2 separate regions of the Homo sapiens genome follow, and region 2 is linked to region 1. A link means that fine-mapping ties the variant in region 1 to the expression of a gene that starts in the linked region. Tissue or cell type: whole blood. Region 1 holds a variant in brackets; the other region holds the start of a gene. All regions are shown on one strand. Distances are from middle to middle.

Evidence for each region. PIP is the estimated chance that this variant, and not a neighbour inherited with it, causes the effect.
Region 2: PFKM starts here. The variant in region 1 is fine-mapped to the expression of PFKM in whole blood (TOPMed, PIP above 0.99).

What each region holds. Positions count from the first base shown.
Region 1 is chr12:48,146,206-48,152,601 of GRCh38, forward strand. PFKM (phosphofructokinase, muscle) reads left to right here. Exons shown (of 23, transcript NM_000289.6): 23 at 1-199. It overlaps ASB8 (ankyrin repeat and SOCS box containing 8), which reads right to left. Exons shown (of 4, transcript NM_024095.5): 3 at 4,996-5,100; 4 at 1,584-3,793. The coding sequence ends at 3,161. Among named protein-coding and RNA genes, the nearest start is that of ASB8, 8.1 kb to the right of the region's middle. The variant T/G (reference allele first, on the strand shown) is at 2,080.
Region 2 is chr12:48,116,960-48,122,157 of GRCh38, forward strand. It overlaps PFKM (phosphofructokinase, muscle), which reads left to right and starts at 2,405. Exons shown (of 23, transcript NM_000289.6): 1 at 2,405-2,447. RefSeq lists an enhancer at 2,001-2,070.

The sequences.
Region 1 (6,396 bases):
CACAGGGGGTGGAGGAAGGGATTATCTCTAGTACACTACTTGCTGGCTGTCTGAAAAATTGTCACTGCCAAACTCTAAAAACAGTTCTAAATAGTGACTGAGAAGGTTTGTTGCTGGAGTCAGGGAATAAGGCAGCCAAATACTCTTTGCACAGTTCTTTAGTGGGAAGAGAAATTAACAATAAATATCAAGCACTGTGGTAGGCATTTCATCATTGAATCCTCATAGTAGCTTTTGGAGGGCAATGGTGACAGCCTGACTTCAGAAAGGAGGACACTGGAGCTCAAGGTGATTGATTACATAATGTCTCCTTCAATATTATTCAAGTAGAACTCAAACTCAGTTCTGACTTCAAACCTCATCCTCATTCCCCATTCCTGCTTCCTTATCATGCCATATCAAATCCCCAGAGCCATAAGGCCTATGAAAACAAAGTGAAAGGGAAGGTTCAGGCATTCATTCAGAACATTTTAAATGCTAATTGCCATTGATTTATAGGTTCTCTGTCTCTTTCCTGTCTTTAATCTTAGAGCTGTTTCCTCAAGAAAATGAAGAGGGAAGGATGGCTCAGGGAAAGTTAATCAGAGGGAAAATGTCACTCTGTAAAGAGTAAAAAATTTAGGATGATGATACGATCTGGGAAAAAAAGGCATAGTGAAGACCACTTAAAAACAAACAAAAAAAACCTATGAAGGTGCATGCTATTTCCCCAGAGCTAAAAAGATAAGTGAAATTGTGTTTGAACTCTTAAGTGGAGGTGAAGCAGAATTTATTAGCCACCAACCACATAAGTGATTATGAAGTAACTGAGAAACAGGTAACATTTTTTCCCACATGGACAAAACTTTCTCTTTCTAGAATATTAAGTATCTATGATGAGAAATGAAGTAGCATCTCAAGCAGTTTATAAATCTACCAGAATATTAGAATCACCTGGGACCTTTGAACGTACTCATGCCCAGGTCTACTTTATTCATTTATTTTTTTGTAGAGATGGGGACTTCAACTCCTGGTCTCAAATGATCCTCCCACCTCGGCCTCCTAAAGTGTGAGGATTACAGGCGTGAGCCACTGTGGCCAGCCCTACTAGGTCTGCTTTGGACCAATTAAATCAATCTCTGGGGGTGGAGCCTGGGCTTTAGTATTTTTAAAAATTTTCCTAGGTGGTTCTAATTAATAACTAGGATTGAGAACCACTGACTAACACAGTGGAATCTCATTCCTGGCTATATTTGAAGCACTGAAGCCCCCAGTCCTACCCCAGAAAATTCCAAAGAATTGGTATGAGGTGAAATCTTGGCACCAGTGTTTTTAAAAAGCTTCCTTAGTGATTTTATGTGCAGCTGGAGTTGAGAACATAAAAGCAGTAATTCCAAATTTGGGGTGGGAGAAGGTATAAAGGAAGGGGAAGCTCTTCAGATACTCTGCCCAAGCCCTCCTGTTCACTCCAGCAATGCCCAGAATCACTGCTGCTAATGGGAGAAAGGTTGGGATGGAAAGTTACATAGAACAGCCAGGCAGTAAACGAAGAACTTTTTCTAAGGGGGGTTGGAGAAAAGTAGGAAAAGTAGAAATTGCCAAACTTGCTTTTAGAACTATTTATTCTTTTTTTTTAAGTGATGTTTTTTAAACACCAGCATCAATAGGACAGAAGAAGACATCTGTTTTCCAATTAGCTGTGTCAGTAGATTCCATTCATTGTTTGTAGTTCCCAATCAGCTTTAAAAAAAAAAGTTTTTCAAATTTGCATACAAGTCATCTAAAATCAATAACAACTTGATCTAATTTAGAAAAATGAAAGAGTATCGTTCACTAAAGCAGATCTCTTTTGGGTAGATGGACCATCACAAAAGGAGCTCTTACATGCTTTTCCCACTCCCATCCCAAGTCCACCCTCCCACCAATTGTATTGTATAAATCAATAAAAAGCAAAGGTTCCAGAACAACTGAAAGAAAAATAATTCCAAACTAAGCAGAGTGAACTTTCCATTGGGAATGAAGACCCATGGGAAAAGGCAGCCCAGCCCATAACTCCTCCCTGCTGGAACACACACCGTAGGTGTAGGAACTGCCTGGGAA[T/G]CCCATTAGAACACACTGTTTCTCAGGAAGAGAAAAAGCTGCATTACAAGAAAAGTTCTCAGGACTTTAGGAGTTCTTAGGACTGTTATTTCAGAGCTATTTATTACTGTTATTACAGAGCTCTTGTTATTTCAGAGCTACTGTAGCCCTTGGGCACAACCAACAGAAAGAGGCAAAGACTGCTGTTTCCTTTGATGAGGGGAAAGAGGTCCAGTCCCTTCCAAATGCCCCAGGACATGGCACAGTAGGGATGTCATCCAGCCCAGTTCTGGATCTGCACCATTTGAGGTTATAGTATCTTCATCTTTGGGACACAATTGCTGTTAGCTGAAATTGTGATTTTCTTAAGTTTTTTCACAGATCAATTAAAATGGTTTTTTTTTTTTTTTTTTTTTTTTGAGACAGTTTTGCTCTTGTTGTCCAGGCTGGAGTGCAATGGCGCGATCTTGGCTCACTGCAACCTCTGCCTCACAGGTTCAAGCGATTCTTCTGTCTCAGCCTCCTGAGTAGCTGGGATTACAGGCGCATGCCACCATGCCCAGCTAATTTTTGTATTTTTAGTAGAGACGGGGTTTCATCATATTGGTCAGGCTGGGCTCGAACTCCTGACCTCAGGTGATCCACCTGCCTCAGCCTCCCAAAGTCCTGGGATTACAGACGTGAGCCACCATGGCTGGCCTAAAATGCTTTCTAGAAGGGATTCTTCTGGACCGTTAACCACGTCCCCAAAGGAAAACCACACACACATTATTTAAGTACTTTCCATCTTCCTAGAGAAATTTAGTTACACTGTTGACTCCTTCCCTAAAGGGGAGGATTGAGGGAGACCTCTTCTTTTGCAAAATGCAATATAAAAAGCCAGGTAAGCAATAAACAGAAAACAAAAGTGAGGGATTTTTTTTGTTGGGTTGTTTGGTTTGGGAAGGGGAGGTGCTATGGAGGTTATTGTTGTGACATGTTGCTTCGAAATCTATAAACCACACAACAGGAACAACTGTTTTTCTGTTTTCTGTGACAAGGAGTACTGCAGGGACAACCTCACCCAGAGCTGCCTGCACGATGGTGCAAACATCTTCTCCGGCTATTCTAAAAGTAACAGGTATTCCTTCAAAGAAGCTGGCAGTGGAAGGCCCTTCACTGCATCGGGGAGATACTGGAGTCCCAGGCTACGGCGCACGGCATAGCGAGCGAGTGTTTTTAGAGTTCCTGGAGCTGAGCACAGAACAGTCAGTTTTTCACATAGCTGCGGGTCTCTGGCCACCTCTCGTGGCATGGTGCCATTTTTCCTCAATTCAAAGTGTCCAACAGCTCTGTGGAGGAGCTCAAAGCAAGAGTCCTCTTTCTCTGTTCCAAGTCCCCTGACTAGCAGAGCCACCAGGCGGGAGATGGGTGTCTGGCCTATTAGGTTGATGACTCTGACCTCTGCGCCATAATCCAGAAGGATGCTGACACTCTCAAGATTTCCCTTCATGGCAGCCCAGCTGAGCGGTGTATCATTGTTGTAATCCAGGGCATTGACAGAGGCCCCGCTCTCTAGGAGAGCCCGCACACACTCAGCATTGTTCTTAAAGGCTGCCCAGTGAAGTGGGGTATCTCTGTTGCCATCCAAAGCATTGGGGTTTGCACCATACTCCAATAGGACCTCCACACAAGCCTCATCTTTCTCTGCTGCATAGTGGAGGGCTGTTCGGTTATACCCATCCAGGGCATTCACCTGTAAAAAGGGAGGAACTATTACAGTAGACAGACTACTGAGAGGAAGACAGGACAGCAGCAAAGAAGCTTGCATGGTTACCCACTACCTTTGCTATGCAGTGCTCTGAACAGGAGGGTCAGCAAGCAACTCCCAGGGAGTCCTGGTGATAAAGATGAAGATATGACAGGAGCTTAGGAGCAAAAAGGAAAAGAACTGTCCTCAAACAGTCAACACTATTATGTGCACTGACTAGCTGGTCTGCATTATTTTGGTTTTTGCTGCAATGTTCTTTTATCTATTCATTAGAATCTCTACCACAGAGTAAGGGGTAAGGCAGGAATAGAGGAAGTCTAAGTCCCCGTAACTGCTCTGAAACATTACTGGAAAGCTGCTTGACTATACAGAGTTTTGGATTATTTTACTTACCCTGACCCTTTCTGTACCCTGTGGCTAATGTAGCAACCAAACTGAAAAACATAGCTTTTGCTAAGTTCTTTAACCATACAGAGAAATTCAAAATGTTAGAATATAAGTCAGACCTTTGCAAAAATATGCTGTGGGTTCACAAGAGAACCCAAATGAAAGCATGTGATAGGAAGAGCACAAATCTCCCAGTGCTGGAAAAGCAGCTGGCTTGCTGACAGTCAGCATCACCTGTAGTTTTTTTCTTCAAATTTCCAAATAGCATATACCCTCATTAATGAAAGACAAAAACAAAAAAAAACCCTGAAACATTTAAGTAAATTCAACCTTTTATTTGGCTAAAACCTATCTTAAGTACCACTTCTTAAGTACTTTAAGTACTTTTAAGGGTACTTTAGATTTAATCAGAGTTGAGGGATCTCTGCATTTATATCTCCTGGATAGACAATAAGCAATGAGAAGATTAAACGGAAATATAAACAGCCCCTACAAGGTAAGCTTCCTGAAGTGATGGCCAGTGACAGCTTAAGTTAAGGAGAAGAAAGAAAGGCAGAGTATCAGCACCATACAATGGGGGCAAGCAGGGTGGGGACAGAAAGGTAAAAGAATGAAATCCTTAGATCATTTTATATATTTACCATTACATTTTCCTTAATATTGGCTATGCCAACATTACCTTGAGTTAGAAGTTCAGACTGGAGGAGGGAAGAGATGGAGGAGTGATGGGGAGAAATTCTAAGAAAACATGAAGCTCAAGTTTTAGTGAGTCATTAATGTGAATGTGTTAAAAACATTACCTCGGCTCCTTTTTCCAGAAGTAACTCCACACAGTCAGCATCTGACACCATACAGGCACAGTGCAAGGGCTTCAGTGTGCCATGAGTGCAGTTCACATCTGCTCCCTGTGGGCAGAAGACAACTTCAGTCAGTGTGTTCAGCTCTGGCTTGCCCAGCAGGACAGAATTCAGAACTGAGTCCAGGGGACAGAGAGTTCTAACTCTCACTATTTTATAGATACAGTGCTAGTTCCTGTTTCCTTTTCTATTAATATTATGTCAATGTCCAAACCAAAGGAGTACACTGAAGATGAAGGAAAGGAACTGTTAATTCCTTAGATCAAGTTACTAAGTTTCTCCACAAGGGAGGCTGCCAGATGGTCACCTGGACATCACTGAAGACAATCTTATGTATCAAAGCACTGGAAACCTTATCATCAGGCAGGAAAGCTGGACCAGCAATCCACTTTCTATGGCCACCATGCTCTGGAAAAGTAGGAAAGTGAGTCTGTCAGACTGAGGCCAGAAATGGCATGCTCTTTTGTCCATTCAACAAATGACCATCATTAATAGTGGCATCATCTTAACACGGTTTTTCCTTTTTTATAAACATCTTCAAAGTAGCCTCTTAGTATCAGTATTCTTTACCATCTAGCCTTTGCTGGTGCTTCTATTCAAAATCAAAGGAGAGGCCGAGTACAGTGGCTCACACCTGTAATCCCAGCACTTTGGGAGGCTGAGGTGGGCAGATCACCTGAGGTCAGAAGTTTGAGACCATCCTGGCCGACATGGTGAAACCCGGTCTCTACTGAAAATACAAAAACTAGCTGGGTGTGGTGGCGGGCATCTGTAATCCCCGCTACTCGGGAGGCTGAGGCAGGAGAATCGCTTGAACCTGGGAGGCGGAGGTTGCAGTGAGCCAAGATCGCGCCATTGCACTCCAGCCTGGGCGACGAGCGAAACTCCGTCTCAAAAAAAAAAAAAAAATCAAGGGAGATGGAGATACCAGTCAGACCAAAGTCACTGAATGACTCAGCAGCAGAGCTAGAATTAGAATGTTACAAGGTTTCTACCGCGGAGTCTCCTGACACTACTTTTGCTGACAATAAGCTAACACTGCATGACTTTTCCTTCTTCAGTTGTGTCCAATAACTCTGAAGCAGCTACAGAGATCTAGGCTGTAAATGACGAGCCTGAAGTCTTAGAATATACACAAGTAACCATCTGGATGCATTTTCTGGTGATCAAAAACTGTGTAACTTCTCTTCAACAAGAAAAATAAATAGAAGAGGATAGTAAAGACCTTCTAGGATACTAGTCACATAACAATTATTGAAGGGCCATGATTAAACATCCGATGGTTAAGGTGTTTTCTTAAACTATAATTACCATGCATTTTAGAGGTTGATATCCTCTACAGAG
Region 2 (5,198 bases), 30 kb before region 1:
TGTTATAGCATCATACCGAATCATTTTAGTGCCCCTAAAATCCCCTGTGCTCCACCTATTAATCTCTCCTTCTCTATCCCAAGCCCCAGTAACAACTGATATTTTTATTGTCTCCGTAGTTTTACCTTTTCCAGACTGTCATACAGTTGGAATCATACAGTATGCAGCCTTTTCACACTGGCCCGTTTCACTATGTCTTTTCCTGGCTTGATAATTTTTTATTGATGGAAAATATTCCATTGTATAGCTGTATCACAGTTTGTTTATTCACCTTTTGAGGGACATCTTGGTTGCCTCCAGCTTTTGGCAATTATGAATAAAGCTTTTATAAACATTCATGTGCAGGTTTTTTGTGCAGACATAATTTTCAGCTCATTCAGCTAAATACTTAGGAGTGCTATTGCTGGATCATGTGGTAAGACAATATTTAGCTTTGTAAAAAACTGTCAAACTGTCTTCTACAGTGACTGTACCATTGTGCATTCCCACCAGCAATTAATGAGAGTTCCAGTGGTTCCACATTCTCATTAGCATTTGGATTTTTGAATTTTAATCATTTAATCATTCTAATAGGTGTGTAGTGGTGTCTCACTGTTTTAATTTGCAGTTCGCTAATGACATATGATGTTGACATCTTTTCATGTTTATTTGCCACCTGTATATCTTCTTTGGTCAACTCTTTTGCCCATTTTTAAATTGAGGTATTTTCTTTTTATTGTCACTGAAAAGAGTCAAACTGTAAAACATTTGAAGAGATTTATCCTGAGCCAAATACGAGTGACCAATAGCTCCCCCATGACACAGCCCTCAGGAGATCCTGAGAACATGTGTTCAAGATGGTCGGGCCACAAGTTGGTTTTATAAATTTTAGGGAGATATAAGGTATCAATGAATATATGTAAGATGTACATTCATTTAGTCCAGAAAGGCGGGATAACTGGAAGCAGGGAGGGGGGAGCGGGGCTTCCAGGTCATAGGTAGATTCAAAGATTTTCTGATTGGAAATTGGTGAAAAGAGTTAAGTTATTGTCCAAAGACTTAATAGAAAAGCAATCTGTGAGGACCAAGGTTTTATCAGGTGGACAAAGCTTCCAGGTAGCAGGTTTCAGAGAATAGATTGTAAATGTTTCTTATCAGACTTAAAGAGTCTGTTCTATCAGTAATTCCAAAAGGGAGGAGCATATAATGAAGTGTGTCTGGCTTCCCCTTTCCATCAACGTCTGAACTAGTTTTTCAGATTAACTTTGGAATACCCTTGACTGAGAGGAGGGGTCTATTCAGATGGTTGAGGGGCTTATAATTTTATTTTTGGTTTACATTCTTAATGAGTTGCAAATGAGTTCTTTATTTATTCTGGATGCCAGCCCCTTATCAGATACATGATTTGCAAATATTTTCTCCCATTCTGTGGGTTGTCTTTCCACTTTCTTGATGGTATAATTTGGAGAACAAATGCTTTTATTTTGTGTAGTCAAATGGGGTTTTATCTCCTAGTCACTTGCATTTGTATTGTTTGTGCCAGAATGTGCAGAGGTAGAGATACAAGTAAGCAAGAGGAAGAGGGCAGTGGTAAAAGCAAGAGGAGACCCGACTGTGGAGACAATGAAGCAAAGGGAAGGTGAGACTTGAGTAATGGATGCACCTCTTGCTCTGGGAGCATCTGACCCTTTTTCCAGAGTGGATCCTGTTTGCTGTGAAGCCCAATTTATATGTTTGCTTCACTGCCAGAATCCCGCCCCCATCCCTCCCCACTGCAGGCTTGAGAAGTGGCCTCACAGACACGCCCTTCCCTCTTGACACTTTCATTCCAAATAGCTAGCTTTTCTGTACTTTCTCTGAGAAAGGTAATGTAAATGTAAAAGAAGTTTTTGAGGCTATTCTATAGAAGATGTCATAATTCAATGTTCCTCAAAGGCAGGGACTATATTTATTTTTTTTAAACCTCTCGGCACCTAATGCAAAATCTAGCACACAGACTCCCAAGAAATGTTTGCTTAAAGACGGATAGAGGGCCACAGGGGCAGGTTTTATTAGCAGTTGCTGAAGATGTTGGAATGCAAGGTGTCTCAGGCAGTCTGGACTAGGAAAAAGTTCTGTGTTGAAAACAAGAGAAGCAACGAAATAATTTATTATTCCCATTAAATAAAGATGCTGATGGCTCTCGAGATAGATATGAGGACCCCAGGACTCTGGGGAGTGAAGGAACTAAGCCGCTGCCATATCTGAGCTGAGTACTTAGGGGGAGGAGGAAGAGGAGGAGAAAGGCAAGCAGGAGGAGGCGGAGCCTTCTTGTCAGCATCTGTTAGTGGAGGTTGGGAAGCCTCTCCTCCTTCCCCCTCCCTCTTTGCCTCCACCTGGCTCCTCCCCATGTTCGTCCATCACCCCTCCCCCCTTTCCCAAGGACAATCTGCAAGAAAGCAGCGGCGGAGGAGAGCTAAGACTAAAAGGCAAGAGGGGCCATTGAGTGAAGAGCAAGGGGGAGAGCTGGGAGTGAGGTGGGAAGGTATGGGCCGGGAGCAGGCGGTAGGGAGAACTGAAAGGAGCAGAAAGGAAAAGAAGAGATACGGCATCCTAAGCTGGAGCCGAGAGGGGGATGGGCAGGGCAGTCGTGAAGGATCCTAGCCCCTTGGCCAGTCCCCTCCGCTTGCAGGCTCAGCTGCATTCCCCAGGAATCTGGGATGGGTGGGTGGGGCTCGGACGGGTTGCCCTTGGCTGCCTGACCCTACCCTGGCACTCACCCAATTCAAATCAGTGCTCCTATGATGCTGCTTTTCTGTTCCTCCCTGCCGCGTGCTTATATACGCACGTGATTTTAGAGATATGTTTTAATATCTGTCTGTTTTTGTCTACGTGCGTGTCATTGTGGGTCTGTAAGGGATGCTTATACATGAGTCTGCATGAATTTCTGTGTCCTGTGCCTCTATAACTGTCTTAGAGATTTCAGGAGAAGAATATGAGCGGTTTTTACAGGTCAGCACTCTTAAACTCCTCTTGTTATGGCGAATTTTCTCCCTCACTGACGCTTCCAGGGGTGGAAGAGCTCTGTGTGGGATTCTGCCCCCGTCATGAGCTCCAAGAGTGAATGAGAAGAAAAAACGGGAGGAAAGGGATCAGCATACCCAGATGTCTTGTTTTTTCCTTTCCACCTTTTTGCCTTCCTATTTGCCCTAGTCACTTAATCTTTCTTTTTGGAAAACAGCAGAAATTTGGACATGAACATTCCAGTTAAATAAGAGCGTCTCTAGTCACGCGTGTCTCTATGTTCCTTTCACTGTTTGTCACTATATGATTTCTCAAGTCCAAGTTAAAAGTGTGTTTTAAAGTAGAATATGGAGGTATATCTGTATCTAAGCCGATTTTACATTTTTCATATATTTGTATTTCATGTAGTTCATCAGTTCATTAACGTTTTCAACAAGTATTTATTGGGGTCCTGTAATGTGCATAGACTTTGCAAGTCTTTAGTGAGCTGTGGGAGAGTTTTTAAAAATGATCATGATCCCTGCCCTGGAGGAGTTCTCAGTCTAGTTAGGAAAAATGACTTTAGCAGCCATCCAGTCCAGTGGTTGGCAAACTTCGTCTGTAAAAGACCAGATAGTAAATATTTTAAACTGCAGGCTTATGAGTCTCTGTCACAATATCCATTCTGCTGTTGTAGCACAAAAACATCCATGATAATACGTGAATGAACGAAGGTAGTGCACATACTGAAATTTGAACTTAACATTTTTCACATGTCATGAAGTACTTTTTGCAACCACTAAAAAATATAAAAACCTTTCACAGCTTACTGCCATACAAAAATGTGAGAAGGGCTGGATTTGGCCTACAGGCTGTTGTATGCTGACCCCTGATCTAGTCCAACCCTCTTATCAGTGCGTACGAAACTATTAAAATGCCACATAAAGCAGGCCGAGCATGGTGGTTTATGCCTGTTATCCCAGCACTTTGGGAGGCAAGGTGGGCGGATCACCTGAAGTCAGGAGTTCAAGACCAGCTTGACCGACATGGTGAAAACCCGTCTCAATTAAAAATACAAAAATTAGCCGGGTGTGGTGGTGCATGTCTGTAATCCCAGCTACTCGGGAGGCTGAGGCAGGAGAATCACTTGAACCTGGGAGGCAGTGATCCAGTTTAGACAACATGTGGTTAGAGGAAGTCCAAAAGAAGGTTTCCTTGACCTGTGGTAATCAGTGAAGGTTTAATAAGGGTACAACTATCACTGGTCTTAAATGATGGAATGGGATGTGAATCTGTGGAAAGGGCCAGGGTAGCCACCTGGACAAGGGATGCAGTGTGCCCAGGCACTAAAGTGGGAAGAGCAAAGTAATGTTCAGGTGACAATGGAGCAGAGAATCTATAGGACCAACAGTTGAAGCTATATGCAAGGGCTAAATTGTAGAAGCTTCGAATGCCAACCCAACAAGTTGGGACCTTATTTGTTAGTACTGATTATATGTAGTACGTTCATTAATCTCTGTCTGTTAACACAATGCATGTTTGTGAATGTATGTCTTCATATATGTCTCATTGCATTATTTTATTATTTGTGTGGATTTGGGTGTTTATGTGACTTATGTCTCTATAGGCAGCTACCCTGAGTTCTCCAAATGCAGGGTAGAAGCAAGCACAAGCTGCCCGTAAAACTTGGGTTCCTGTGAATGAATACACATCTCCACTGAAGCCTAGGGACCTATGACCTTCCTATGAAGGTTTATTTTGTGTGTCTAATAGAGTGAAGAAAGGAACACAAGCACAGGGAAACCAGCTATTGTAGTAAGCAGTTCAGGTGGAAAATGGCAATGAGGATAGAAAGGAGGGGATGGATAAAGGAAGATAATAAGAAGGGAGAATAATAGGATTTAGTTACTGTTTTGAATCTGAGAGGAAGGGAGGAGATAAATTTAAAATAACAGGTTTTAGCCTGAAAAACTGGGAGAGTGATAATTCTACTGGCATTTTATGGATACAAAAATACGTCCTCTTGTGTGTTCCTTTGAGAGAGGTGATCCCTAAAGAATAAAATATGAAGGTGTTCCCATGTCGTATGTACACATCTGTGTATATACGGCAGTGACTTTGTGTTAATTTTCTCATTTCATAGCATGTAGTAATGTGAGGGGCAAGACCCAAAGACCAAGGATCAAGAGATGCTCAGGAGGCTGACATCCTGAGAGGGAAGAGCCATAGAAAGCCCC